Linked DNA regions of Homo sapiens. The protein of the gene in region 2 binds, or shares a complex with, the protein of the main gene of each other region. Each region holds a gene or a part of one and is shown on either strand. Other genes may lie near its edges.

What was found.
Region 1: ARID1B (region 2) and DPF3 share a complex: the UniProt entries of both Homo sapiens proteins name them as parts of the neuron-specific chromatin remodeling complex.
Region 3: ARID1B (region 2) and SMARCA2 share a complex: the UniProt entries of both Homo sapiens proteins name them as parts of the neuron-specific chromatin remodeling complex.

Annotation. Positions count from the first base shown.
Region 1 is NC_000014.9:72,606,115-72,613,513, forward strand, and holds the end of DPF3 (zinc finger protein DPF3), read right to left. Parts: 3' UTR 2,920-7,399; downstream 1-2,919. UniProt on the Homo sapiens protein: Belongs to the neuron-specific chromatin remodeling complex (nBAF complex).
Region 2 is NC_000006.12:157,177,357-157,189,187, forward strand, and holds part of ARID1B (AT-rich interactive domain-containing protein 1B), read left to right. Parts: intron 1-3,612; coding exon 3,613-3,822; intron 3,823-6,874; coding exon 6,875-7,079; intron 7,080-11,831. UniProt on the Homo sapiens protein: Involved in transcriptional activation and repression of select genes by chromatin remodeling (alteration of DNA-nucleosome topology).
Region 3 is NC_000009.12:2,078,852-2,090,682, forward strand, and holds part of SMARCA2 (SWI/SNF-related matrix-associated actin-dependent regulator of chromatin subfamily A member 2), read left to right. Parts: intron 1-2,980; coding exon 2,981-3,144; intron 3,145-4,495; coding exon 4,496-4,562; intron 4,563-5,234; coding exon 5,235-5,345; intron 5,346-7,977; coding exon 7,978-8,220; intron 8,221-9,648; coding exon 9,649-9,762; intron 9,763-11,831. UniProt on the Homo sapiens protein: ATPase involved in transcriptional activation and repression of select genes by chromatin remodeling (alteration of DNA-nucleosome topology).

The DNA.
Region 1 (7,399 bases), on a different chromosome or scaffold from region 2:
CAATGTAAACCTCTGGCCTCATCGTGTCTGGTATTAAACCATGCCATTCCAAGGCACTGCATGGAAACACACTTTGCCAGACACCCCAGAAGGCCCCTGACTCAGGCCAACTCTGGGGGCTGGAAGACAGGCATGATCTTTTGGTGCATGTATACCTCGATCTGCATGGCCCCTTCCCCAAACCCGCTAAGTCTAGGGCTGACTTTATAGAAACTCATGCCTGTATCTATAAAGTCAAATGTCACCCAGCCAGATAAGACAAGATCTAGAACTTCTGATTCCTCTCTCAGTAGCCTTTCTGCCAACCCAGGGAGGGGAAACCATATTATATCTCTATCGCAACCCCACCCCTTAGACTCCCACTACTGCCGGGTGTTGAGCCACTCATCAACATCTTATCCCACTGGTCCCTTCTTCCTAGGTCTCGCCACCTCACTCCACCACCATTCCAAGCCTTTTCCTCTCCCCAGGGAAAAAGCAGAGGAAGGCCGTTCTGCTCTGCGTTTGCTTGAACATAACTTGGATCCTTCCACTTTTCCCCGCTGATAGTTTGGATGTGTGTTCCCACCAAATTCCGTGTTGAAATGTGATCCCCAGTGTTGGAGGTGGGGCCTAGTGGGAAGTGTTTGGGTCGTGGGGGTGGATCCCTCATGAACAGCTTTGTGCCCTCCCAGCGGTAGGTAATGACTGAGTTCTTGTTCTATTGGTTCACACTAGAACTGATTGTTAAAAAGAGTCTAGGACCTCCCCCTCTCTGTCTCACTCCTTCCCTCACCATGTGACACACCTGCTCCTCCTCAATTGAAAGCTTCCTGAGGTCCTTACAAGAAGCAGATGTTGGTGCCATGCTTCTTGTATAGCCTGCAGAGCCATGAGCCAAATAATCCTCTTTTCTTTACAAATTACCCATCCTCAGGCATATCCTTTAGTAACACAAAATGGACTAACACCCCCTCCCTCCTCCATCCCTCTGACTCAGGGCAATGTCAGTTTCTGGGCTGCATTATAATAGTTAACTTTCTCAGGTCCAACAGAACATGGCACATCTACTGCCTTCTCAAAAGACCTCTCTCAGAAATTGATGGGATAAAATGTCTTCGTCTGTTTGGGCCCCTATAATAAAGTGCCATAGACTGGGTGGCTTATCAACAATAAGCCAAATTTATTTCTCACAATTCTGGAGACTGGAAAGTCCAAGATCAAGGTGCCAGCAGATTCGGTGTCCAGCAAGGGCCTGCCTCCTCATGGACAGCCACCTTCTCACTCCAACTTCACATGGTGAAGGGGCAAGGGGTCTGTCTTGGGCTTCCTTTATAAGGGCACTAATGCCGTGCATGTGGACTCTGCCCCCCATGACATAATCACCTCCCAAAGTCCCTGCTTCTAATACCATCACCCTGAGGGTGGAGATTTCAACATATGGATTTTGGGGGACATACCATTCATACCATAGCAGACTAGGATGCAATGCCGGGTTCCCTGGGGTTAAAGCAGAAATGTGCACAGCTCTCTGTGCAGATGAAAGGCCTGAATGTGGGTGTCTGTGTAATCGTCTGCTGCCTGGATTTTGTTATATGAGCCTAAGTCCCCCTGATTGCTGAATTTAGCAGTTCAGCATTGCAGGTCCAGCTGTCACTTGAAACTGCTTTGGGTGAAGGCCTGGCCTTTCCCCTCTGGTCCCTGAATGCGAACATCTCTCCCACTGCAGAGATGGCTCGACAACCTGCTCAATGACCCATGTCCGCAGCAACCATCAATGGCTTCTCTGCCGAAATAACGGCCCCACATTATGCTTAGAAAAGCAAAGGCTGAAGGCGCATGGATGACTCATTAAAGAACAGTGCAGCACTCACTTAGGGGAGGAATAAAAAGTGACATGGTGTCTTCCCACTGCCATGCCCACCTGTGTCTTACCAAAATGCACAGTAGCTTCCAACTAAAACCACGCTGACTGATCGAGACCAGGGAGCTCATGTTCTAGTTCCCTCAATTTCCCCCTTGACCCCGTTCATCACATGTTGTACTATTACCTGTCTGGTGCCTGCCTCCTTGGCAAGATTGTGAGCCTCATGAGAGGTAGAGCTTTGTCTTCTCTGCTGTAGCCCCAGTACCTAGCATAGAGTAGAGGCCTTTATTTATCTATCTAAAATTTATTTTTGGGAGACTGACTCTTAACTTGCAGCCTCAGGAAACCAATTCCCGCATGGACCAGGAGTCCTATACCCACAGGCTGTTGCTTTAAGGCCATTGCTAAGCAGACTCTAGAGACTCTAGGGGCAGATGTGTCCTCTGTGATACCTCTTGCTCCTTGCCCAGGGCAGCCAACTCACTGCCTTCATGGAAGGCAGCTGAGAGAAAAGAAGCAATGACTCAGCTGGCTTCTAGATGGGTCCTGCACCAGAGGTCTCTCTCTCTCCCCAACCATATTCCCCCACCTCTCCTGTGAGTCATCTCTGATTCATCAACCTCCCTTCTCCTAGAAAATCTAGGGGGCTCCTTTCAGGATGCCCTAGGAGCTTCTCTGAGGGGTCTCCAGAAAAGGAGCTGCTCTACTCCTGCAGATGAAGCTCTCAGTTAAGGCCTGAAGCTATGCTGCCCACTGTGCCCATGAAAGCTGTCACGGTGACTGTGGCTTCCCTGGTGCTATGTATGACGTGGCCAGAAGCTCATCACCAGGCAGCAACTGAGACCTGGAATTTGTTGCTCCTGGAGTCTCCCTGCAACCATGAAAGCACTAGTGTTTCTCTGGAGCCTGATGCACACGCATGCGTGTTTCTCTCTCTCCCTCTCTCTCTTTCTCTCTCTCTTACACAATGCAGTCCTACTGCACACCCCAACATGAAAGGGCTCTACCCCCACAGGATCTCTACATTTGCAAGTGAGGTCCTAACTATCCGTAGGGAAAATAAGAGTTTCCAAGAGTTTTAAAGCCTTTTATTTGTTTACACATTCTCTAAATTGCAGACAAAAGATTCACTACGTGGGTAGTCAACATTGCTAACCAATCACAGAACAAGATACTAACCACAGCAAGGAAGGGGTAGGGGCTTGTGACTCAGTCTTTGAGAACGTGCGAGCATTCCATGGGATATCGAGGGGTCCCAAAGAAGAAGGCTGCTCGATCCCCACATTCTTCATCTCATCAGCGACAGGTCTCCCTCCCAGAACCCCATCAGGACAGGAGAAAAGGCAGCAAGAGAGGTGGGGTGGTCCTGGCACGTGGGCCACCAGTCTTCTGAATGAAGAGTGAGTCCCGGGTCAGGAGTCCACATCAGGTGTGGGCTGCTTCCAATCTGTAGGTTCTCCTGGAGATTGTCACAATCTGCCAGCTCTCTGGGAATCACAGAACCATCATGTCCCCTTAGGATGGCAGAAGATGTGGCACAGCCTCAATCTCCAACACTGAAACACTGAGAGAGCTTGATACGTTCCTTAGGCAGGGCAGAAACATCACAGCACTTCACGTTAGGAACCACGAAAGAGTGGGAACCTGACACACGTGGGAAGGGCACATCCCCAGAGGACAGAGGACAAGGGTGGCACACACACCTACAGAGACCGCAACCACATCACAGTGAAGGAGGAGGACAGCTAACGGGGTGGGAGGTGGGAGCTTTTTGTTTGTCTGTTGCTGTCGTTGCTTTTTAGAGAAGCCAGGGTGGGCCAAATGGAGATATTGTCTCAAGACCATTACACACAGCTTCCCAAATCTGTAGCCCTTTTCTGTAACCTCATGAAAGCTGTGTCAGACTCAGTCCTGGTCTGAAGTACCAAAGCAGCCCAAGGCAAAACCTCATCTGCAAGAGGCAATGCGGCGTTGGGTCCCAAGGATCAGTGGGGAGGGTGTTCAAAAGAGCAAAAAGGGAAACCCTCTTTCATAGGCATTTCTCTCACTGGAGACCCACTCTCTTGGTCATTCCTTTATGACTGAGAGTCTCAGAAGGAGTTGTGAGTGTGAGGTAAAAGAGACAAGCAAGCATTTTGGAATGATGGGGATAAAATGTTGCAGTGGCTTCCCTCTCTGGTGCCCATACCTGGAAGAAGCAATCCCAGGTTTGCTTCGTATCTGCAGGTCTAGAGACATCAATGGAGGCAGCAATTGGAGATCTCAGTGTGTTTCCAGGGTCTCTGACTCAACTAGAGGGCATCCAAGGCCTGGTGGAGCCTGTGCAGGCCTGAGCTTCCTCGTGGAGCAGCAGGTAGGCAGCTCATTCCCAGGGACCTGGTCATCCTTCCTACCATAGGAGCCACCTGCCAAAGCCCACCCAGAGGAATCCCAGCGTTCACAAATGGAGGCGCCCTCACCAAAGCCACTGGACCAGCCTGTCCCTGAGAAGAGACACAGAGGGGCTTCAGCAATGAGAAGAAGAAAACCAATTTCTTTTGGCTTCTTAGCAGAGATGCTCCATGTCTTGGCTGTCAGAGAAATTGAGCTTACAAATTGCCCTCACCCTGAACCCACTTGGCAACGGGGAGATGACCTGGTTGAGGTCTAGTTCTGGCTTTTGTGAATCGACCGTGTGACGTAGACAGCACAGCATCAGGCCAGGAAGGCGCCTGATGAGACCGTGTTCTCAGCCTGAGAGCGCGCTCAAGGGCAGGTGGGAGATGGAGCCTTCTCAGAGCTCAGCCACTGGCTCTTGGGCTCCCAGGTTCATCCCTCAAGGAGCTGGGGACCTGAGGGCTCAGGGCCCACCACTGGCTGCCTGGGGGAAGTGCTGCCAGTCTGGTGTGGAAAGGGTCCAAGTCAGAGGCCTTTGCCTCACCCCTTCCACCAGCAGGGCCATTCAGAGAAGTCTTGGCTCAAAAGAACGTTGCCCACAGGCTTTCAAGTAGGTGAGTGGACCAAACCCCTGCATGCTTTTCAGGCTGTCACGCACTTTAAAACCAGACTCACAGCCAAGCCTTGTGTCCCTGACTACCTCCACAGAGATCACCAGAATTCTCCTCACTGGGAGTCATGTGCCATCCAGGGCCCCAGAGGAGCCTTCCCTTGGGCCACCCCCCACAGAGAAGCTATAGCTCTGAGCCAACATCCACACATGGACAGATACACACCTTCCCCCAAGCCCAGGCATTTTGCTTGAAAGCAAGGTTGGTGTGGCTTCTTCAGGGAATAACTCAAAGCTGAAATCTGGCTGTGACACGTGTGGAGAAAAGGAAAGATGAAACAAACGGTTTATTCCTAATGCTGTCAACACAAACAACTGAGAGTCTAAGCCAGCACGAAGCTAGGATCTGACAAGCACCTGGCCAAAGGTGAGCATGGAAGGTTTGCTGAAAACCTCTCTGATGCTGGGTTTCATCCCTGCACACACCAGCAGTGCCAGATACAGGCGTGGGGCAGCTGACCTTGCTGGGGTCTGGTGGAGTGTGCCCAATCTGTACTTGAAGCCCCCACCCCCCCAGTCCCGCTCTCTGCTTTCTCTAGCAGGGAAAAGACCACTGTGGGGGTCATTTTCTGCCTCTGATCAGGCCCTGCCAGTTGCACCTCCCTGCCTTCCACCCCAGAAACCCACAAGCAGCTCTGGGGACACTGGCTGCCCAACACACTCCAGGCCAGGTGACTTCATCAGTTCACCAGTTTTAATGCTGAGGATGCTGTCATCCAAGGGCATCCAGTGCTTGGAAAAGCAGATTAAAGCAACTAGGCTGAGGTCATCTGTTTTCTTCCCCCGACCCCTCAGCCTCCACAGGGTAGAAATCACTGGATGCCTCCACCTGCTTGTCTTCTACTGAGGAACACGCATCCTCAACAGAGAAACCTACATATACTTACACCTTCCGTGATGGCGCGATACTTGACCTACAATCACGATTGCTTGGCAGAGCTTAATTTCATGGCTGAAAAGCAACTTGAAGGCTAGGCCAGCATGCGGTTTATTTTCCAGCCCCTACAGGACCTAGAGCATTGCCTCGCACACAGTCGATGCCCTGCCAAGGGTTTTAATTTAGCCAGTAACAGCCTGCCCTGCAATGATTCATGGCAGGCAAAAGATGGGTTCATTTTCCTTCAGAGGAAAAACCCCCAGGGTGGACAACCATGGCAGATGAGTGGGGGGCAGCTTGGATGGACTCTGTTCCCTTTCCTGGCCAGAGGAGCACAAATGCCCCCTAAGCATCTGACCATTCATTGCAAAAGCATGACCCATCTGCTTTCCCAAATGCCATGTGGACCAGACGCATTGGTGAGCCAGGGACGCCCTGCCTACCTACCCCGCCTCTCTCCAGCCACCTGCTCCCCACCTCCTCTGCTCTGAGATAATCATTCTATATTTTCATGCTCTTGCTCACATATCAGGCAGTGTTTCTGTCCTTTTTTTTTTTCTAGTACCTAATTTAGGCTTCTTCAACTACATGTTGAAAATGTGCACGGGGTATATTTTCTTTTTCCTATACGCCACTGTTGCTTCCCACTTCCCACCTCCACCCCACTCCTTAGCATCTATCACGGCAGAGGGAAGGGAGGAAACAGTGCAGGGAAGGGAGAGGGCAGGAGGAGAATCAGGGTCTCAGTGGGGAGTAGACATGGAAGGGCAAACCAAGTCCGTATAAACCACAAACCCCATTCTAGCCATAAAAGCTTTGCATCCCTTTGATAGCAGAATTGAGACTTTTGAAGTACCCAACTATTGCCAAATATCTTTCATGAAAAGAAGCATAGGTGAACGAAGGGAAGAGAAGGAGAGAGGTCGCGGAGCCAGTAGCTTTCCAAGCACAAGGCTCCCTTTGCAACCCTGGTGGCTGTGCAGAGGCTGAGAGCTGGAGGAGCAGGACTGGAGAAGACTTCAGGAAAGATGCACCTTGCCTGGCAGCCCCTGGCTCTCCCTCTTGTCCTGGAGCAACATCAAAGTTTCCCTTTGGTTCATTAAGTAGGGCGTGTGTGTGTGTGTGTGTGTGTGTGTGTGTGTGTGTGTATGTGCGTGCGTGCACGCACGCGCATGCACATGGGCATTCCTGTTCTCATCATCAATATTCATAACATTGAAATGAAGAACAGAGATGCAGAGAGGCGAGCAAATGAGCAAATGGGATGCAGTGAGTGAAAATATAACCTGGGAGTCTGTAGGGTTGTGTTGCTGAGGGAATATATAGGCCCCAGGGGCTCACAGGCCTCTGCCATTTCCTACAAGGCCCACTTACCTGCCCTCCCGTCCCCACCATGGCCGCGTTTATTTGCTAGACAGGGTTGGTGCCAGCCTACAGGGCCATTTTGCTCAATGCCTGGGCTAGAGGTCATGATAAGTAATTATATCTCTGTCCAAGAGGGTTCTGGCTGCCTGCCAGTCCTGGTTCCTGCCTTCCTCTGGCCTGCCCTGGGAAATGTCGCCATCAGCAAAATACTCCCTTCTCCTGGTGGAGCCAAAGAAGGGGAACTGTGGAAGGTCCCTCTCTCAAG
Region 2 (11,831 bases):
AATCACTGCAAATACATGCAACCCCGGAATAGTTAACTGCTCTTTCTGAGATGCCGCTTCAATTTGGGCTTAAAATTGCTCTTAATAGTGTCCTTAATAAAGCCTGTCTAACAGCAGGTCTGGAAAAGGCAAAATGATGAAGATGCTCTATGCTTTGACAGTGTACTGTGGACCAACATTGTTTTGTTACAGAACATTCTAAAATAAAAATAAACATTTGTCCATACACATACACATACACATATTACCAGGCATATGGTAAAGACTGCTGAAATGTAAATCTGCCTAAAAGACTTGAGGAAAATGTACTTATAGGCTTAATTAAAGTATATGCAAGGAAAACATTTGTGGCACCATAATAATGTCTTGCTGTAATTTTACAGCAATTTCCATTCCTTTTTCTTGCCTCCACAAAGTTTCACAGCAGTAGGATACAATTTTTGCAACACTGAGGCGGTACTAGGTAGGCCTTAGTGACTGGGAAAAGTGAACCCGTCTTTCCGAAGGGCGAGTTTGTTTGCCTACTGTCAGTGGGAGGAGTGTAAATGAAGACCTTTATCCAAAGCCAGCGTCTATGAACAAGGACAGTATGTTTGGAGCCTGGTCAGTGATGAGAGTGATAACGTACATGCTCTCTATTCACTAAGTCTTTAATTGCGCTCTGTTCAGACACTAAATATTGGCTGTGGTCATTGCCTGCCCAGTATGCGAACCATAAGCTGGGGTGGAGGCGTTGAGTGCTGGCAGCGGACGCAACCTCTTGCTCAGCCTTCAGTCTTACTAGACTGTGCCCACGTTCACTCCACACCTTGCTCGGTGAAATCCTGTTTATAGGATATTTGAATCAGCTGTTAATTCCTGTTAGCATGTTCCAAGCGTTTCACACCCTTTTTGTCCATTGGAGTAATCACTCATGGAAAAAAAAAATGCTATCACAGCCCTCCAGCATGCAGAGCACCACGCTAAGTGTTGGTGATCAGCATCCACCCAAACTCTGACTTGTGAAACTTAGGATCTAGTCGGAAAAGTGGGTGTCAGACAAATAGTTACGTGCAAAACATACAGTTTTACACAGTGTGTGACGTCGTGCTGCAAAGGAAAAGTAAAGCGTGTGGCAGTGGTGAAACTGAGGCCCTGGTTCAGCTAAGTGAGCCAGCCTCGGGAGGCCTCTTCCGAATTTATCACGTAAACTGAGGCCTGACCGTGTCAGTTCCCTGCAGATGCAGTTTCCTACATTATGGTGCCATAAAAATGCCTCTTAGAAGATCTAAAAATTATGAAAAAGAACTATTCTCTTAGAAAGTATCTTCATTTAATTTTTCCAGTGTTATGACAACAAATTGAGATAGGCACAAGTTAATTAAACTTAAGTTTATTTAACCAAGGAGAGAAAAGTTAATATATAGTCAAACTGTGTCCATCATTATCTCAGGCCTATTCCAGCTTGTAAGAATCCAGTCCCTTCAGAAGCAAGAACAAGCATTTCTGTGCCCCGTTGCTCTGTTCATGATTCTATTCATCCAGAACCACTCCCCAGTTTCAGTTTAGAGAGGACCAAACCAGGAACGGCAGATGGATCTTACAAACAGGATATTGGTTGAGCTAATTGGAGCAATTTTAAATTGAAATGATTGCCTTTATTTGTCTTATCTTTAAACTGAATCTCAAACTTTTACCTCAGTTTTTTACAAATAAAATGCAAGAGGGAAGTTGTTTTACTGTTAACTGATTATAGATTATAATGCCTTTTTCTTCATGTTCTTATTTCAATTTTTCACTTTTGAAAACGTTGGACCCATTTTTTTAAGTGTAACTCCCCAAAGAAGAAAAAAACTCTATACTAAAATTTAGAAACCTCCTAATAATAACTGTCCCGTTAATAAAAAAGAAAACTCCATACTAAAATTTAGGAACCTGTTTTTAATAACTGTCCCATTAATGACGGCAGAGCTTCTGAGGTGCTGCCCGGATGAGAGTCTTGTGTAAAGTGTGTTAGAGCAGCCTCTTTTCCTAGTCAAGTAGGCCTTGGGTACAAGGATATGAAAAATAAGCTTTAAAAATTTATTTGGATATATAGTTTCTATATTCTAAGTGTACATATGGGTTTATAGACATATATATATTCACACATATATGAATATGTATACATATATATTTTTTAAGCTCTTATCTAAAGTGGTTTTTAAGTGATGTGAAGTTTAACCTCAGCATCAAAGTATATTCTAAAATATAAAACAACTATTTTTTATCATTCTACATTTTTTATTTACATCAACTGTATCACCCATTACATATTTGATAAAGAGGTTATGCCTCAGTAATTCTGAAGCTGAAGGCTTAAAATCTCAGCCCAGTGACTCTGGAGAATCACGTGTTAGTTAAAGGGAAAGCGGCGGCCTCACATGCTGCGTAAGTTTCATTCTCAGGCATCCTTTCTGAGGGACCTACTTTTACTGGAGATCATTCTGCTAAATAAGGTAACATCTAGCCTCAATGGCAGTCATGTTAGTTAACCCCCTAAACCTTCAAAAATATGTTTAAAATTATGTTAAGCTAAATAAAGAAAAAAGGAAAAAAAACTTAAGAATTCTGTCTGTAATAATTTCTCTATATTGCAAATAATAACCTAGGTATGCATAAATAAAGTAAATTATTGTTCCAAGAAATCTTTATTGAGAACTGAGAAAAGATTTTGTACAATAACCCTAGTATTGCAAATATTGTAAATATTTTTACAAATACAGAGATATAAATAAGAAAGGGAAGAGATACAGTTGGCCCGCCTAGGGCTAAAAGTGTTACCTGTCCAGATTATGTAATCCACGGAGTAGGCTTCAGGTGTTCAGAAACGGCAACTCTTGATATTTTAGTGTCAGGTAAAAGCAGGTACATAGAAACCCAAGAACTAGAGTATCAATATAAAACACATGAGCATATAAATACATGGGCATAAAAATAAATGTATATGTTTATCCATAAATCCCAAAGCTTTGGTTGACCCTTAGTTTATCTAAAAAAAAAAAACAAAAAAAAACAAAAAACACACGAGCTTATAGCCCACACCACTGGTTCCCGTGACTGGAAATCTACCTTATATTTTTCAGCAAGCACCGTGTGGTTGCTCATCCTCCAGATGCTGTAGCATTTTAACGAAGACACCCTTTAGCCATTCTTGTTTTGACAAGGAAAAGTAGGAGTCCATTTAATGTTTTGGGCTCTATAATATCACATGTAAAAATTTTAATTCACTATGATCATTCCATGAGCTAGAACCCTTTTATTTTTAAAAATAACATGAGGTGTCACTGGAATTTTGCCTTCTGGGATTCAACGCTTATATCCAAAAAGGGCTTTGTTCTTTTTTGTTTTTGTTTTTAAGTGTATAAAAGGGGGAGTTTGGGCCTTTTATTTAAAGTAAAAGTAAATTCCTAACTAAGAAAATGTATAGTTTGTGCCTGAACTAGTAGCCTTCATTCCTAATTGTTGTGTGATAGCAGTAGTTTTTAATCTCTTCTCTTCTTGTATTTGTTAGCTCATTACTTTTTTCTCACCTTCTTCCCTCTCCCTCTGCCCACCCATGCCCCACCTCCACATGCTGCTTCTGGGTACTAGAAGTCCAGCTCCTCCACCACTACTGGGGAGAAGATCACGAAGGTGTACGAGCTGGGGAATGAGCCAGAGAGAAAGCTCTGGGTCGACCGATACCTCACCTTCATGGAAGAGAGAGGCTCTCCTGTCTCAAGTCTGCCTGCCGTGGGCAAGAAGCCCCTGGACCTGTTCCGACTCTACGTCTGCGTCAAAGAGATCGGGGGTTTGGCCCAGGTAAGAATGAGTGAGGGAGGGGGTGAAAAAGGAAGCATTGTGGATAAGTTCTTACAGTGGCTTTCTTTGAATGTGTGGACTCATTTTTTTTCTCACAAAGGAAAAGCTAAGCCTGTGTGAAAGTCGCCTTCTTGCAACCCACGTCTGTGTGCTGTCAGGGAGCACTGGGGGACCCTGGCTCTGCCACCAACTCGCAGCGTGACCTCAGCAGGTCATGTTCTTGGACCTCAGTTTCGTCATGTATACAGCGGGCCAGACTAGATTTTCCTGTAGGTTTTCTTACAGCTCCAGAATTCTCTGGAATCTGCCAGTAGTTCATAGTAAATACTCAGAAATGTTTTACAAATGACTGAATTAATTATCTGTGTCAGATATAAGTCACATTTACTGCTTCCCTCTATCCAGAACAGGTTAGCAGGAAAATTAAGTGATACTTGTCAAACCATGCCCACAATAACTGGACAGTTAGGAGGGCCATTGCTGTGACCTCCAGCGGGCTAGGCCTGAGGTGTGACAGGGGAGCTGCCTGGGGTGCAGATTTAAGGAGCTATCCACTGTGTGCTTGCTTGACTCTCAGAGTGAGTGCGTCCTGAAGTCTCATACCCCAGGCACCGGCTTTCCTCACTGTAGCCCTCGCTCCTTAATCAGGAGTCTAGTTGTAGGACCACGCCCTGTCATAGGAACAGGGAAAAGGTACTCACTGTGTAACCTTTGTCTTTCTAAATACATGAGTCACCAGCCCCAAAGCATAGATGAGAAAACTCCTGTGTAACAAAATCAAGTACAGGATGGGGTGCAGTGGCTTACACCTGTAATCCCAGCACTTTGGGAAGCCAAGGCAGGAGGATCACTTGAGGCCAGGAGTTGCAGACTAGCCTGGGGACCCCAGTAAGACTTTGTCTCCATTAAAAACTACAAAACTTAGCCGGGCGTGGTGATGCACACCTACAGTCCCAGCTGTTCAGGAGGCTGAGGTGGGAGGATCACTTGAGCCCAGGAGTTCAAGGTTACAGTAAGCTTTGATCACACTACTATACTCCAGCCTGGTTGACAGAGCAAGACCCTGTCTCAATAAAAAATAATATATTTTTTAAAAAATAGAATAATGCTGTAGCCCAGGGACACTCACAGGGTAGTTGGTGGGGCCAGGTCTGTCTGACTCCAGACACATACTCTTCCCATTTGCCACTGGTTCTGGAGTCCAGCTATGCATTAGAATGGCCTGGGCAGCTTTTCAAAGCTGTCAGTACCTGGGCTACCACCCGACATCAATGAAATGAAACCTTCTGTGCCCAAGGTAATCTAACAGGCAGTCAGAATCAGGCGCCCTGCGCCCCACCAAGGTGGCGGGGGTCACTAACTATCCAAGGGCAAGTCATCTGCCCTGCAGGTGTCACTGACGGCCTACCGTGGTCTCAGTGCTGCGTCTCGGGGGAGAAAGGGGAGGCCTTCTTTGTGCTTAGCCTTCCCACTAGGTGCCTAATCCATTCCATGGGGGAACTGAGACCTGTGACAGAAAGAATTAGAGCTTGCCCATGACGCTGCATAACCAGCTGCTAAGTCGTGTGATACCACGTGTGAGTGATGGTCAGCAAAGAGAATGATTGAGACACGCCTCTCTCTGACCTGGACTCCCTGACCTTTCCCCTCTGCACCTGGGCTCCTTTGCCTTCTGCCCCTGGACTCCCCTGACCTTTCTCCCCTGCACCTAGCCTCTTCTGACATGGATTTTTTAGAATCACCAAGACTGCTCAAACGATTAGATTTTATCAGCCAGCACAGAGTAGATAGTGTCTGGCTACTTCCTTACTGTGACTGTGTCCACAGTATATATAACCAGGCTGGGTCTGTCATGAGACTCTCCGCGGGCTTATAATGAGGGTTGCTGGAATGTAGCTGGGTTGCATCTTTGTCCCCACCCCATCATGCTGTGTACCTTGTGGGCATCAGATGTGGTTGGGAGCAGGTGCTGCCACCACACAAAGCTCAGCTCCCAGCCTTCCTTCTTAGGTCACACTGAGCAGCGCCCAGCTTGCCATTTCTGAAGTAACCTGAAGACCCACAGTTTGCAGCCCTGCATTCAGTGCCAAAAGAGGGCGGTGGGCATCTCCGGGAGCATCCACAATTTATTATACACCACCGAGTACTAAGTAAATGGACAGAAGAGCCGTGTGAGAAAGTTTGAACCCAGAAATTTAATATTTCATTAAAAACCACTGTCCCCTTACCTCCTCCCTTGCCACACAACGCAGGAGACATCAAAAGGCAAAACCTTCCCCAAGTTATTTGCAAATCCTCATGTTTCATCCATGTGTTTAACCGTTTAACCTTTCATAACCTGTTCCCAAGTGGGAATCAAAAGGTTAAAATAATGCCTCGGATCTTGACGTCACATTTCAGGAGTTCTCTTTCTTTCTCCTCCTTTTGCGACTGTGTTGTCTCCAGCCCTTTAAGCCTCCTTGAGTAAGAGCACCGCACAGGAAGGTGTGCACCTGCCCCGTCAGCAGGGCTGGTGGCCAGTGGCATCGCATCATGCTTTTTAAGTTGGGGGCCGTTGGTCCAGGGGCTCATTTGCCTTTGCACGAGGTGCTGCTTTTGCTTTTGCCTGACACCCCAAGCAGTCTTGGGGTGAGGGGATGGGTACGGCCCAGAATCACAGGCCCACTTCTGAGGGCTTGCAGCTGCTGGAATGAGCACTTTCACATCAGTGCCCAAAAACCTAACTTGGAAAATAGTGCCGTTGTTGCTTTTTAAATGTTTTGAGATGCCCTTTTTCCTTAATTGGAGGTGCAGTGGGATGAGCGTGAGGCGTTGGGAGATGTGGCGGGCAGAAGGACCTCCGAGCAGTGCTTTTTCTGTTGCCATCAGCAGGTTCCCTAATGGTTTTATAACTGTAAATGCTGCCTATGCACTGCTGAGTGGGAGTAATGAGCATTAGTTAAAAGAGGCAAATGAAGAAAAGTCAACCAAGACATTAAGTGCTTTTTTTGTCTCCTGGCTTTAAACAAGCCACTTTGTTGCAAACCAATGATCCTGCCGTGTTTTTCACTAGGTTAATAAAAACAAGAAGTGGCGTGAGCTGGCAACCAACCTAAACGTTGGCACCTCAAGCAGTGCAGCGAGCTCCCTGAAAAAGCAGTATATTCAGTACCTGTTTGCCTTTGAGTGCAAGATCGAACGTGGGGAGGAGCCCCCGCCGGAAGTCTTCAGCACCGGGGACACCAAAAAGCAGCCCAAGCTCCAGCCGCCATCTCCTGGTAAGTGGCGGCGCTGCAGTCACTGGCCCAGGAAAGCCCAGGCGCCTGGCCTGGGAGGTTCCGGGAAGGTGGTTTCACAGTCAGGCCAACAGGGAACTTGGGACTTTTGAGAGGTGGGGGGTTCCTGTGTCGTTTTGTTTATTTAATTGGACGCCCACTGGCAGTGTTAAGGGATGAGAGAATTAAATCTGGGATATGGCCATTTCTGGTTGACACTTGGAAGGCACCCCTTCTTTTGCTTTACCTTAATCAAAACAGGCTTTCGAATTCTAAGCCATATACGTTTATTGCTTATACAAGTATTCAAAAAGATTCCATCTACCTCTACACAAAATAAAGATCCCCCAGTGGCCAGTTTGAATACATGTGCACTTCTAGGAAATGCCACCCTACAGGTTCGACAGCTCGAGCTCCCCCGCCCTCTTTCGGAAATCCTCAGATTTGAACTTTAGTAAAATGAAGCCTGGGCTTCGTTTCTAATGTCCCCTACCCAGCAAGTTCTCACTTCTAGGGAATTTAACAAGCTGTCGTGGTAAGGATCCACACGGCCTTGTTTTGGAAACAGGTGGTCTTTTGCAGCCTTGTTCTGGAAGTCAGGGGTCTTAGGAATGGGTGCAGCGCTGGCCACCAACACGCTCGCAGGCCGAGCCACATCAGTGACGCCTGCTGGCTCCCTTCCCTCTCCTCCCCACTGACAGAGACCCTCCCATTCCTTTCAGCTCCCCTGCCAGCCTTCGTTCTACCGTTTGGCTTTCAGATTTGAAATGACAAAATCATATATTCTGATAAATGCAATAGTAGAGAGGGGAAGAAATTGGCACCTTAGTGCTGGGTGGTGACCTTACTCCAGTAGATCCGACCATTCTCTTATCTGTGTCTGCCTCGCAGTCAGCGACCTTCAGCACATTAGCCTCACTGTTCCTGGTCCCTGTCTATGAGATGTGGCTGCACCCACCGCTCCTGTACACAGCTTGTTCTGAGCGTGGCTGGCAGCCCATGTTTCCTGAGCACTTCCAGTGTGCTGGGCCCTTTTCTAAGTGCTATCATTTCATTTTCACATCAGCCCTGTGACATTGATACTATTTTAAAATCCATGAGAAAATGAAGGTCTCGTGGAATCTAAGTACTTGCCCAAAGCCAACTAGCTGGGGAGTAGAAGGTCTTATCTGGGGCATCTGGTGCTACAGTATACACGATACCCACCAGACACCTCTGGCTGTATTGAAAATACCTTTGTAATATGTGAAATGTTTACACATAGAAGCCAGAGAAAGAGGTCATTTCATTTTTAATGATTTCCTCTAGCTGCTGTCTGGATGGCAAAGCTGATATCCAAGGTTGCTAATCAAGGGATCTCACATAAATACGTTTTAGGCCCAAAGTGCACTTGTAGTGAATATACCTAGAATTACATCTGTAGGCTCTAAAAACAAGTAGAAATCCTCGCTAACCTCATCCTTAAAGATTCAAAGGCTTTACCAACTCAGGTGTCCCTTAAAAACTGGGAAATCTAATTTTAAAAATCTCACAACATTACATCCAGTTCACAGAGTAAAACAAGCTGCCTGTGAACAGCTCTGAAACTATTTTTCCAAAATAAAAACCCAGTGGGGCGTAGGGACCAAAGTGGTGATGTCTGTAAAGATCTAAGGGTACATTTTATTTGCCAGGAAAGAACTCGTGTCACTGAATGGGCTGCACTTGTGTATGGAGAATAGCTCTCCCAGTGTGCATCAGCTTCAGGACGGGGGCCCTGCTGAGGCGTATAGATCCTTCAGAAAGTGGAGGGCCTGTTCTCTTAACAGCCAGCCGTTCCCTTTTCCCCTTTTTTAAACTGTCATTTTTATGGCAACATTATCATTTTAACTACACAAAAGAGCTTGGATTGCAAATGGACTCCTGGTATACATTCTTCTCAGTAGTCCAGATGGAGCCGAGGGCCTGTGACACAGGAGGCAGTGGAAGGAAAGCCTCCTGGTCTCGTCCAGCCCCGAGAGCGCGTGCAGGGGGCTCCAGGCACACACAGGCGTCTGGGGGTCGCAGGCAGAGGCACCCTGGTCTTCAGAAGCCTCTCGATTCACTGCCACCCACACAGCAGGTGGCCTCTCCGATTCCAGTCCCATCATTAGGGAAAGTGTCTGGAAACATTTTTGTTGTTAAAGGAAAATAAAATTATTCCCAACTATTGGCCATGTTAGAGTCTCATTTATTACAAGATTTTTAAACACAAATTTACGGTAAAAATGTATGTTCTTTGAAGTCACTTTTTCCTGGAAGAACATAATTATAGTTTATTTTTTACCAGCACATTCAGGCGAACTAAACTAAAAGATTCTGAAGAAACATTTTAGATTTTTTTTCACCCAATGGTTGCTCTGAACCAGCTAAAATCCTAAGTCTTTTGACTGTATTCTAAGAGCACTCTAAGTCATCTGTCTCTAGTCAGGTTTCAATTTGGGGTGCTAATACAGCTCTAGGCTTCAATTCTGTCAGCCTCTGGGAGGCATAAGCCCCTTGGCCCCTGGGGCTGCACCCCACATATCACTGCCAAGTGGCTGTGTGGCTTCTCACACCGGATGTCTGGGTTCCTGTCTTCCAGCCACCAGAGCAAGTCAGTGATTGAGACTCCCAGGTGAACCAAGGCAAGGCCATGGGGTGTGGTTTGTGTCTTTAAGGTGCCAGTGGCGATCTTGTTATAAAGCATCTAGAAAAGGTTGTGGGGGAGTTCCAATGAGCGCTGTAGGAAGCACCTCCCCAGCCTGTAAGCTGGAGATGGGGAGGGGAATGGAAGGGACCAGGCTGGGAGAAGTGGGGCAGGGGTGGGGCATGGAGCTCCACATTCGGTTAATAAGTCTGTAACCAAAAACCCATCCATCTTGGCTGGCAGGTGGCTGACTGAATTTCTATTATTAGCTGACAGGTGATGTCACAAAACCTGTCATGGATCCAACTAGGGAATCCTCAGTGGAAGATAAATGAGAAAGGGACTCAGGTTATAAACAGAGGTGCCCTCTGGTTGACCTCTAGTCACTGTAGACCTGGGACATATCAGCTATTCCTTCTCCCCACCCTACTTCGCTCAACCCCGCCAGAACTAGGGCACCAGGTTCGTGCCGGGTAAATTATCTTCCCAGCTAGGAGCCTGGCCATGCTGTCTGAAGTGTGTGAATGTACTTAACCTTCAGTAACCTTTCCATTGTTTACTTTAGAGTATACATTTGTAGCTTCTGGCAAAAGGTAGGGATGTCCTAGAGAGCCTGCCAGCCTCCTCTATTAATGGAGTTACAAGAGGTTGCATTCATTTTTTTTTTTTCCATGAAAGGAAAGGAAAAAAAAAACACTGGCAAGGGAGATTTTTCCTTTTTTTTTTTATTAGCTATAAATGTGAATACTTGTAAATAAGGGTCTTTCTGAAATCAAGCCTTGCAAGTGATGTTTCCAAGGAGGCTGTCGGCTGGAGCGGAGCCTGCCTGAATTTCGAAAGCAAGTCATTTCTCTTCTGCAGCACTAGGCGGGCAACCATGTCTGCAGGATTATTACCCTTTTATATCTGCAAAAGACGGCTTTCTTCCTTTACTCCAATATACCTTTTTAACATGTGTTTCCAGGGTTTTACGCAAATTTGGTTTGTAAGTATGAGTGAATACATTTTTCTTTTAAAATACCTACAATAAGTGTCAATCTTCTCTGTATAACAAACCCCCATGACATGCGTTTACCTATGTAACAAACCTGCACATCCTGCACATGTACCCCTCAACTTAAAGTTTAAAAAAAAAAAAGTAAATAAAAACTTTTTTAAAAAAGTCAGTCTTTGTGGCATCTCTGAGAACTTCTCTAAGTCATTCAGTGCAGGGCTCACAGGGACGGATGTTACGCAGTGTTCAGCTCTGTTGGCCAGCGTTCATTCCAACCCAGGCCAGAGGCTGGGCAGACCTCATCTGGCTAGGAATGTCTCTGTCTAGCTGAGGCTTTCCGAGTAGAAATAATGTACTCATTTTGATTTCTGACTCCTTCCCAGTGTCCTCTGTAACCTCTCGTGGTTTGTTTCACCTCCATTGCCACTAGAGTAAAATGTGAATAATGGTAGTTGTAGTGAGCCTTGGGAACGTCATAGGAAAGGCATTCTACACAATAACATGGAAAACGTTATTCACAAGCAGCAGTAATCCTGCCATTTGTTCGGGGGGTTCTGCACGTTTTTATCAGAAACTCCATGAGGGCAGGGGTTGTTGTCTTTCTTATCAGTTTGGTCCACTGGTGTATGTGAGCATAGAAGAGAACCTAGACTATAGTAGGTGTATTACTCATTTATTAAGTATTTGTTTAATTCACACATGAAACCAGTATCTATTGATGATCTGGCGTGCTAAGGACTGCAGTAGATGACAGAGCAGGAGCCCTGCAAATGTTACGTTTTTCCCTCAAGGTGAGGTTAATTAATTTTTCCAAGAGTCCCACATAAGGTTTGGAAAAAATCAGTTCAATTCTGTTATTATAATGTAATTATACTTAAAGCCAAATCTCAGCACCCTGATAACAGCATTAAAAAAACGCCAAACCAGTATGACTTGTGCTTTTTGATAACAAATCTGATTTCATAGGTCAAAAAGTGACACTATTAATGACAGCACAGACACATTCAGATGTTGAGAAGCTATTGAAATGACATAAGGCTCATTGTTAATTTGTGTCCTTGCTTTTCATCTTAAACATTTCACATTGTCTAAGACCCAGAACTAAGTTTTCTAA
Region 3 (11,831 bases), on a different chromosome or scaffold from region 2:
GGAGAATGGCGTGAACCCAGGAGGCGGAGCTTACAGTGAGCCGAGATAGCACCACTGCACTCCAGCCTCGGCAACAGAGTGAGACTCTATCCAAAAAAATAAATAAATAAATAAAAATAAAAATAGATAAATAAAAAAAGAGGTTTGTGGCCAAATACTGTAACTAAGATTACCATATAAATTACTATTTCTAACTTGAATACTTGTGAACGTGAGTCGAGGGCCTTATTATTGATAATAGGCATAACCCTGGACTGTCCCTGAACAACAACCAGATACGGTCACTCTGGCAGTGACCCCTCTTGTTAATTCACATGCCCGTCAGCACACTTGGGACTCTGCGGAAATCAACATGTAACCATAAGGCACATCAGCATCCTGCAGTAAAATCACTTCTTTAACATTGTTTAACTTCATATTTCCCAAATTTCTTTGACTACCAAACCCTATTTTTATATCACCAATTAACATCCTGTAAGACTAGCGTCTTCTAGAATACACTTTAGGAAGTGTACTTGTTGGCATCGGGTCCTCTCTACTCTTAACACTTGGTACTGTGTCTGCTGCCCTTGCATAGGAGTGCAGAATACAATGACTGCCAGTACAGTACTGCCTTGATGGTGCTGAAGCACTAGCAGTTTTTACCTACCAATGCTTTTGCATCATCAGTGCAGACGTCAACACAGTAAAAATGACAAGTAATGCCTTAGTATTGTCATGCTAATCATTTTGACCTCGTGGATCTCCTTCCAAGATCTTGGGGGGCCCTGAGAACCCCTGGAACACATTCTGAGGACCACTGCTCTGGCCTTAGTAAGATCATGTTTTCTCCAAAGACCATGTCATAGTCCTGAGATCCAAAGCAGGTTTCATCTTGTTTGGCCTACCTGACATAGATGTTAACTCATAGCATGCTCTAATAAACTTTTGTATATCTGCATATGGGAGATCCATCTTTTGAATTATTTGTGAATAACTTGTAATGCCACATGGGTTTTCTTCTGTCATCCAACACCCTTCTAAGCAGTCTTCATCACTCTCTTTTCAAACCTAGCTCCTTCGACTTCCATATGTGAGTTTTATGCCTCTGTGTTGCTGAGCTGCTGTAGATTCCCCGAACATGCCTTGCAGTGTCTCTCTGGATTTATACCTTATGAAGTGCCTTCTTCCTGGAATCTTGACTAGCCATGTCCGCCTGATGAGATCTCACAAACCAGTTCAAGTTGTGGCTCAAACCTTCCCTGATCATTTCTCATAAACCAGTTCAAGTTGTGGCTCAAAGCCTTCCCTGATCATTCTCTCCATGAGTAAGCTTTCTATCTTCTTGCTTCTTGACAGGTTTTTGTGTCATTAATATTTACTTAACCTTGACACGGCTGAGGTCTTCCTGCTACTCCTAGAGAGCCACATAAGCTTGGTTCAATATCTAATCCTCCCCCTGGCCAATTCTGCCAGTTTCCAGCCTGAGAAAATCCAAATTACTTCCCACAATTTTTGTGAATTTCTAGTCTCCTCTGCTGCTAGTTTCTACTTCTGTTTTGTATTGAATTAGCACAAACGCAAAATTCAGCCCCTTTACCAATTTTCTCTAAAAAAAGCAGAAACAAAAATTCATCCTACAGAGTATCCAAAATGTTTCTTGTATTTAGTTGACTTTTCTAAAGCTCTAGTGGTTTCAGGGTCACGTTGCAGGCTGACAGCTTCTCCTGTCTACCACTGTTTGTTTTATAATAATTTCCCCTCTTTCCCTCTATCTTTTGCCCATTCTCTTGGAGGTTCTTCCTGTTTCTCTACTTATCTCTTGTTGTTGTTGTAGTTCTGCAGAAACCTTTAGGATGACTTTGGAATCTTGCATGGTACAAAGTATCTCAAGTGGCTTATGGAAGTATTGCTTCAAACCAATGCGGTGTCTCCCTAAGAAAAATTCTTGTCAATACAGTTTTATATGTATACATATACATTGGCACTGTCAACCACTTCTTGGCATATGTGTATATGTGCCTCATTCATTGTTTTCTCTTTTATTTGAGCTTCTGAAGGGAGGCATGCATCTTACAGACCTTGGTATCTATCTGCTACAGCTCCTTGCATGGCCCCTTGCACAGAATAGTCATTTAATAAATATTTTAAATAAACTAATTGCTTGCTTTGTTCTTACATAAAAAATTAACATTTCCCTAAGCATAACATCATTAGCAAGCTAAATTGACTTTAGCAAACATATATATAATTGATCCTATCATTTAAATCCAGCATCTGTGGTATGATGGTGGAAGGGAATTGTTGGTTGGGGGATGGAGGTTTAACAATTTTGTATTTTCACCCAACCTTACTTTTGTACTTAACGTGGGGAATCTCTGGTACAGTGTTTTTGTACTTCAGAAATACGTTGAGCATGTTTCCAGTTGCCAGCTTCCAGTGTGCAGCCTTTGGGTAGTACTCACATTACAAAGTTCCCATGTGCTGTCTGGGAACTTTCTCTCTGCCAGGAAGAGAAATGTCCTCCTGTGGTCCCAGCAGAGTGTCCCTGGCTCCCTGGTCAGTCCGCCTTTTCACTGAGGGGACCTCACCCATATTACCGAAAAGGCTGTTTTTAATAATCTGTGATCTGTGTGCCAAATCTGCCTTCACATTGGCTTTTTATTCTTGGAGTGGTTGGATTAGATTTTGGTTTGGGCTTTTTTCATTTATAATAATTCTAGAATGTCACATACTGTGAAATACTAAGTGTGGATGAGCGGCAAAGCTGCTTTAAAACTCACCTGTCAAGAAGCAAGAAGAGAGAAAGCTTACTCATGGAGAGAATGATCAGGCTCATATTTTACATTCTTTTTGCATTGGTGCTTCCCCCATTTTCCTACTGTGGGAAACCCAACATACAGCAGTGAGGAGTTAAGAAGTCACACCCTCACTTGGGTTGTATTAGGATTAATTACCTGTGCAGATCTTGGATAATTGAAGCAATTACTCTTCATTTCAGCTCCAGGGCCTGGAATGGATGGTTTCCCTGTATAATAACAACTTGAACGGAATCTTAGCCGATGAAATGGGGCTTGGAAAGACCATACAGACCATTGCACTCATCACTTATCTGATGGAGCACAAAAGACTCAATGGCCCCTATCTCATCATTGTTCCCCTTTCGTAAGTAAAGTCATTTATTCCACAGTCATCGTTCTGTATGTTGTAGAGTGCCCGATTAGTAGCTTGTCCTTGTTTTTTACTTAAGACAGAATTGTAGCATGTACTAACCTAAATCCAGATTACCAAGAGCATGTAATCTGGATTTAGGTTTTAATTTCCCACCCCTCCCCATCCTAGCCTGTTTGATTGGCTATTTAAGCACGGGACCGAGTGATTTTATCGGCCATCAGCATTACAGGTCTGCACAGCCTGAACACTGCATAGTGAGTCTTGCTCATCATTATTCCTTAAGTGGCTCACAAAGGGGAAAGGTGTGTGTGTGTGTGTGTGTGTGTGTGTGTGTGTGTGTGTGTGTGATTTCTTTGATTTTTTCCTTATTCCATTTCCAAAAGATGATATATTCTTAAATCTTCCTTTTAAAAGCAGAACATAAATCAAAATCATAACTAGGAGTTTTGCATTAAAATAACCTTAGTATGTGCACTGAGGTTATGTTTCAATGAGTTTGCTGCTTAGTAAGGACAGGAGTTTGCTGTTCGCCATTACGTTCCCAGTGCCTCACCTGCTAGGTGGTTCTTAGAAGGTCCTAAGTGGGCACTACCGAGTGAGGGCACAGTGATTCACAAGCACCCTCCTGGGAGTTCAGTGTGTCTGCCTGTGGGTGTTAGGTTGCAGTTTTGTTCACCAAGGTCTTGTTATAGATCTCAATGCTGATATGAACTTGGACCTTCAGTAAGAAGAAGGATTCTATTAATATTATTGTGTTTTCTTTGAATTTTTTCTAATGAAGACTATTTGCAGCCCTTTTTGTATGAATTATCTGTATCTGTAATATTTAGGCATCTTTTGCATTTGATCTATATTTTGCGTGTTCTGAATCATATATACAGTGACACTTTCAGGGCTTTAAAAAACGTCATTCAATATTTCTTCCCCTGTTCCCTCTTGACAGATTTATTTTATGTTTTCATGTGGTTTTATAATTTCTTTTTCCTGACTCATCTTTTTTCTGAACCTATATGGCTGTTTATGAAGATTCCTAAAATCATTCTGGCAATTGCTCTTTTTTAATATCATATTACAGTTTAGTTTTTTGCTCTCTATATTTATGTATTCTTTAGTTTTTTTCTTACAAGATTTTTTTATGAACCACAAACTTGTCATGTTTTGTGACAGTTTGTTTTGAACTTATCTCCTATTTCCACACCTTTAAAATAAATATCTTGTTGAGATATGTTATATTCTGTAGCCCCTTTCAAGGTGAGGCCTGAACATGAATAAGAACATCTTTTTAACCATTGATTTTTATACAAATGTCTTTTTTCTGTTGTTTTTTTTTTTTGTTCCATAGGACTCTATCTAACTGGACATATGAATTTGACAAATGGGCTCCTTCTGTGGTGAAGATTTCTTACAAGGTTTGGAATGCTGTATTTATATATAAATGTGGAAAAGCAAAAAATAGACCCTATTTTCTTCATTCCATATGCACATCTGTGAACTGTATTTGGTTGTAAAGTTTTGTCATGTACATCATGTACTAAACCGTGAGAGTTAATCATCCCAAGAAGATTACTGTAATAAACCATAATTACTTTCAGATAGTGAAATCCAGAAGAAAATTGTTAATTATCATATTGCAAGGTTTCTGATGAGAGTAATACAAATGACAAATATCACACATTCTGCGTGCTGCTGACTGGCTCGCTGTGGGCTGCTACTGTGCTGACTGTTCCTGCAAAGTCAGGCAATTACCCGGATGCCCGGGGCTGCCTGCTGTACTTTCTCAACAGAACTGGAGCCTTTCAGCAGAGCGGTGGGTTCTCTACTACCACAAATTCACTGTCATTTCCATTTCCCTTTGCCCTCCCACTGTCTTTGGTGGGAAAACCTTTCTAAAAAAAGATCTGAAAAGGGTCAAGACGTGTAATTTAGCCAAAACTTCCTCGTGTATAATAGATCAGTCTATGAGAATGTGTGTCTGTGCATTCTTCAGTCACATGTCTGGGCATCATTAAGCTATGAAAAGTGAGAAATAATGCACATATATGTCCATAGGATCATGCATGTATTTTTTTCTTTCCATTCAGGGTACTCCTGCCATGCGTCGCTCCCTTGTCCCCCAGCTACGGAGTGGCAAATTCAATGTCCTCTTGACTACTTATGAGTATATTATAAAAGACAAGCACATTCTTGCAAAGGTATGTTTTTAAAAAATTATTTTCTCTCTAATTAGGACCATTGCACTGGAATGTGAAGTATTGCCCAAGTCAGTAGTGTAATTGGATCCTTAGATGGCTTGTCCTTTTCTTTATTTTTCTAAAATTTTTTCAGAGTTTGATATGTTTTGGTCGTGGATTTGATTTCATGCATGCTGTGTGTGTGTGTGTGTGTGTGTGTGTGTGTGTGTGTGTGTGTGTGTTTATGATTGATCCTGGGGCGGCTCTTGTCTATCCCCTCAGAGTTGATGAGTTTACATCTCTTAAAAAAATTCACCTGGTTGCTTCTGCAACTCTTTTTCTCTCTAACAGCTTTGCACATTCTCGGGAAAGAAATAATTGTTTTTGTTGCCCTGAGATATTGTCAGTGTACCTTCATTCTTCTTGTGCCTTTGTTTCTCCAAAGATGAGCCAGACACCTCTCCATATGGTCTCCACCATATGAACATTTATCCAAGCCGTGGCTTTTGTGGTAGTCTTGTTTCAGGTTTTTCCTGGTGAAATAATAGACTATCATTGTTGGAGTTACTTAAGGTTGTTTCTGTGACTATTTATTTGAAACTGAGAAAGAGGTGTTTCTGTGACTTACATGTCTCCTAATTTTTATGTCCTAAGTTGTTCCTTAGCCACAAAGTAGAAATTTTTACTCCCATTTATATCATCTTGTCTTCTAATACGTTCATGTAGAAAGATGGAAGTGCTCTCTTTCGTGGAACAAATAATGAAAACTCTTTTTTTTCCTCTTTAGTAATTTTTTTTACCCCATGACGTTTTGAAAGCACTATAATCTGAAACTAAGTTATGTCCAAAATTGAATAGAACCTCTATTTCTGGGGTCTATTCTACCTCTGCATTAAACTCTTGCTCTGGGAACTGAGAGTTCCCTTCATGGCATCATAGGAAATAACAAAAAGGAAATGTGTTCCCAGGGGAGGTTTAATAATTGAGATGGCACTGGCAACAATGCTGTGTTCCACCTCCTCACACTCAGAGATGAATTTGGCAGTGTCAAAAATGATGTGTTTTCAATATTACTATGGGAATGTGTTTGTACATTTGAGATCCTTTTAAAAAAATTCATCTTGTGTCTTCTGCATATGTATTTCAAGATTCATTGGAGACGCCTGGTAATGAGATGCACTGCTTTTATTTGTTACTGGAGAAATGGAGCTATAGAAAGAGGTAGTAATTTTGTCCAAGTGGAAGACCTAATTAGTAGTAGACCCCATAGCAAAATCAAAGGCCTCTGATTCTTTATTATTTCATAAGCTAAATTAGGCAGGAAAGTAGATTTAGGATATTTATTTAAATATATTTTTTGTCTGCTTGCCTCTTTTCATGCTGTTGGTAAGTCTGAGGCAGTTGATTGTACAGCTTTAATTATCCTTAAACACTTTTCTTAGAGGTGGTGGAGGAAGGAAAAAAAATCGAGGTAGTTTTTTTTTTGTTTTTTTCTTACCTGTACATCCCAGCCTGACTGATGATTTTATTCCTTTTCTCCTGGCACGTCTGATGCTTCTAATGAGGAAGGCAAGGACTGTATAGAATACTTTCCTCATCTCCCTTCTCTCTCTAGGAGCTTTGCAGCAGGATCTGGGGACATCTGAGCACCAGATGTTTTTCTTGGCCATTGCCACTGTTTTGTAGAGAATGGATAGGCTTAGTGGAACATTCCTCATTGTTCTCACTTTAAGAAACTGAACAGTGCTCTTAAGAGGACTGAAGGGTAAGGTATGAGAGAGGGAACGTACTGTGTAGACAGGAAGGAGGACTGGGCCATATAAGCATTCTGGACGTTTTACGCAATCGTCATGTTGGGGAAGTATGCTGTATTTAATTCTGCAGTTTTGGCATAAATACAGGAGTGATATTTTTGCAGTGCGCTTTCTGCCAGTGAGTATATTCTTTTATTTTAGATAAAACAGGGGTCCTAGATCTGGCAGGTAAGGAATGTGCGTGTATTGAGGGAGCTTCGTTGTCAGACCTAATTTTTGAAAAGCCGTATGTACAAATTTAATGTGAAATAGTCCAACTTTTAAATGTTAGCAACCAGTCCAAACAAAACAAAACACACTTCCGGGCCAAGCCCTAAAGGTAGTAACCAGCCAGGCTAATAGAAAAGAAGGCATGGAGCCAAGAATATCTCAGCTGTAGAACCTGCTAGGGCCATCTTGGAAAAATCAGTCATTAACCTCTGCTTCAGGTGGGTACCTATATTCTGTGCCTGTCATGAGCTGAAATAGCATGACCATGAAATCTGGGATAGCTGTCATGATAACGTATTAATAGAAGGGGCATTGGATGGGGAGAGGCAGGATCCACACGTGGAAACAACCATGTCATTCTGGACCCAAATTTCCTTCTTTGTAAAAAGTTGATTTGGAATTACGTGGTCTGTAAGGAACATTGTTCCTTTAACATTCTATTATTATAGGATGTCTTATGCGGCCTATCAGGCATGAGACATTGTTGAGATTCCCTTGTCTCAAAGGTAATCACAGCATATCATATACCAAGGATGGGTTCTTTGGTTTTCCGCACCACCACTTGCTTGTTGGAAATAGTTGTATTTTCCCTTGCTTACTACACGTCCGTCCTTCCTCTTGTGTTATAGATTCGGTGGAAATACATGATAGTGGACGAAGGCCACCGAATGAAGAATCACCACTGCAAGCTGACTCAGGTCTTGAACACTCACTATGTGGCCCCCAGAAGGATCCTCTTGACTGGGACCCCGCTGCAGAATAAGCTCCCTGAACTCTGGGCCCTCCTCAACTTCCTCCTCCCAACAATTTTTAAGAGCTGCAGCACATTTGAACAATGGTTCAATGCTCCATTTGCCATGACTGGTGAAAGGGTACTGGTCTGAGTTCTGTTTTTTCCACTGCATGATAATGACATGAAATGAAAGGCCCTAAAGCTGAGAACATTAGAGCCACAGAACACCCGCAGGGTGGTTTCCACTGTTGTTTATTTTATGAAACCCATCGGTGGGTGGACATGGTCTTGTGGTGGGGTTATTTTCCCCTCCTAGGAAAATGGATCTAGTGGTACATGGGGCATCTAACCCCTTTGTCTTTTGCCAGCATGTTTACCAGGCTACCAGAAAAGGGTCCCAACCGGTGGAATGCTTAACTGCAGTGGGCCACAGGGAGGATGAACATGGAGATATTTTGCTGAAGTAATTTAACCAGACCAAATTAACCAACTAAATACAAGCTTTAAACAAATCTTTCCTTGTTACAAACTTGGAGTTCCCTTTAAAATATTTCCACATAAAGATTTTGTGTGTAAAACAGAACTAGTTTTCACACATTTTCTGCAGACCTTTTTTTTTTCTTTTTAGGTTTTAATGTGATTTTCAGTTTTGTGTGTACATAAATAGTCTTCCTGGAGTAGCCATTTATTTTCCAATTTCTTATTGTTCCTTCCACTGTCTTCTCTTAAGAGCTCATTTATGAAAGGTAGACAATGGGCCATTGCAAGAAAAGAAATGGGCACGTGTCATTTTCATAGTGGTTCCTCATTCATAGGAATGAAAAGCCACTAAAAATGCTTTAGTAAAATTTCGGTTTGAATTATTTGGCCCTTTGATGTTGAGGCACATGGGCCCATCCTCAGTAGTTAACTCACTGGCTTGCCCATTTGTAGAAAGTAGTGTCAATCAACTCTGCCCCCTAGAGGTTAATAGGAGAAGGTGAAAGAGAAAGCCGGGAAATGTATAAGATGGACTAAACTTGAACTAGATAGGGCTGAGAAAAGGAAAGGAGTGAAGTTAGAGGGACTTAGAGGTCCACCAGCATAAACTGGATCAACTCTTGTTCCTCTTCTTTATATGTTCAAGCCCCTGTTCCTTTAGTATGTTTCTGTGTCTGAGACAACCAAGACGAAGGGCCTAACTTAAGGCTGCCACTTTAAATAGGGAACATATTAACTGTTGCCCACCTTCTCCCATTCTATCTCAGTCTTCAGTCTGTCTTCATTGACAGTCATATCCCATACAATTTGAGGCTGTTGACACTACTGATAAAAAACTGGTGGCTTCCGGGCTCTTTTCCATAGAACTCAGCGTTAAGACAAAGACACCTATTTAGAGGTCATTTTGTTACCACTTGGTAGGCAGGTGGGAAGATAATTCAGAGGTAGATATGACAGGCTTAAACTTGGCTTTAATGCATGTAAAATGTCAATCATGTATTGAACCACACATATGTAACATAAAGCTTTATTGTATGAAACATCCTTTTCTTTAAAAAATCAAATTCATAATAAGCCTCTCTTACAGGTGGACTTAAATGAAGAAGAAACTATATTGATCATCAGGCGTCTACATAAGGTGTTAAGACCATTTTTACTAAGGAGACTGAAGAAAGAAGTTGAATCCCAGCTTCCCGAAAAAGTATGTTGCACAACCAAAAGTTGTGGGTTTTTTTTTTCCTCCAGCAAATATATTTGAAGTACCTGCCTCTGAAATTGTGTTTCTGAAACAGCAGACTCATATTGTAGTTAATAGTATCTTGAAAATATCTTAAATTGTTTTTTTGTTTGATAGGGCTAGAGAGAGCAGGGAAATTATAGCATTTGCAGCCTGTTTTCCAAAAGCGTTCGAGCAGATTTTATGAAATTATCAAATTCACTGAGTCTCATTTACATTTTAATTTTAGATTTTTTTTTTTTTTTAAATTACGGACCTCATTGAGTTCACTGTTGCAGGCACTGTAGAATTGTTCTGCTTATAAGTGAATGGAAGATTTGGCGTTGGGGACTTGTATCATCATTGAAGGGGGTGGTAAACATTTACAGGTTTTCTAGAAATTTATTTAACATTTGATGTTTGTGATGTCACCATTCTGACAGTAAGTGAAAAAACAGAGTTCCTGCAAATTACAGACACATCATCTAATTATTCGGGGACATTATTTTTGTTCTGTGCCATAAAAATTAAGTTCCTGTGAACATTTTAAGCCAGTATTTTTCGGACTAACTTTTGGAAACTTAGTCTGCAGTACTTTAGAACACCTTTTGAGCCCTTAGCTCCATGTTTTGGGGTTGGATGTGAGTATTAGTTTAATATGTTTCTGATCATATTTTGGAACCATGCATATTTGAATTCTAAGTTTCATTCTCTTAGAGACAGTTTAGCATTGTGTACTATTTGTTGCATGAGGTATTTTGATTTGAGTTTTTTCTTTAGAAGAGCCAATTCTGAAATGTCTTATTTTTGCATGATTGTGGTTTTTCTGGGTAACGACTCTATTTTTGGACAGATTGGTTCATCCTGTTCATTTTTAAGTGGGAGTTTTCAAGATGGTGTACAACGTTGATCACTTTGTTACGAGAGAATTTTATTCCCTAATCCTTTATGCATTGTCAGAAAAAAAATTAAAAATGACTTTTATACCATGCATATCTCAGTGAAAGTCTACGTATTTAAGTATTTTATTCTGCTGGTGAATGCATCTTGGACGTAGAATGCTATTGATATTCCCTTGGACTTCCTGTGGTCTTGGCCTCTGGGTAGCACCCTTTCTGTTCAAGATGGAGTTTAGTTACTGAGTAGATAAATTGATGAATGGGTATAGTGGCCATGTGGGTGCCTTGAATTACTTCCTAGCATACAGTTACGGTGATTCTGCAAGTGATAGAGATGGAATGTTAAACATTTTAATTTATCCCATAATTTCTTTTTTTTTCTTTACAAGAGGTATAAAATAAAAGGCAATTAACTGAAGCCCTTCATTTATTCATTCCATAAGACTTCTTAATCTTGTTCATTCACTTCTAAGACTGGCTAATACAGATAGATTTTTAAAAATATATTGCAAGTTGAAAGTATGTTATGTTGTAAGAAAATCCACTAGAGAAAAATTGAAATTTTTGCAGCTTAAGAATTATGAGGTGATTAATTATATCACAAAGGAATTCTTTGCTTTACAAAAATATTTATTTTATGGTTCTTTCTACAAGAGAAGTTCCTGAGTATACTTGAAGGATGATAAAATTTTTATGAAATGTATCTACCCTCAAATGATCACGAGTATGTCTCTTGCATAAAGTATACATGTATTTATTAACACCCAGAGTATTATATTTGAGGTATGTAAAATACTCAGTGTGTGGTATTATCTACCTTTAGAGGTATCTGTACCTTTAAAGGCAGCCATGTTATCTTTTCCTTTGGTGGAGTGGAAATCATGGGCTCTGCCTGTCAGAGTAGGCATGGGTTTCACCACATTCTCCATCTCTTACTATGTGAACTTGGGCAAGTCTTCTAACCTAAATGGGTCTTAGTGTTCTCATCAGTGAACTGGAAGATAAATGACTCTGTCTTATGGAGTTGTGAGGATTAAATGGATGTAGGGCTCCTAATACCATGCCAGGCACATGGTGGGCACCCAACCAATGACAGCTGCTTCTACCATATTCCTTATTTTCCACTCATGTTGCTGTCTCTGTTATTAATGGGAG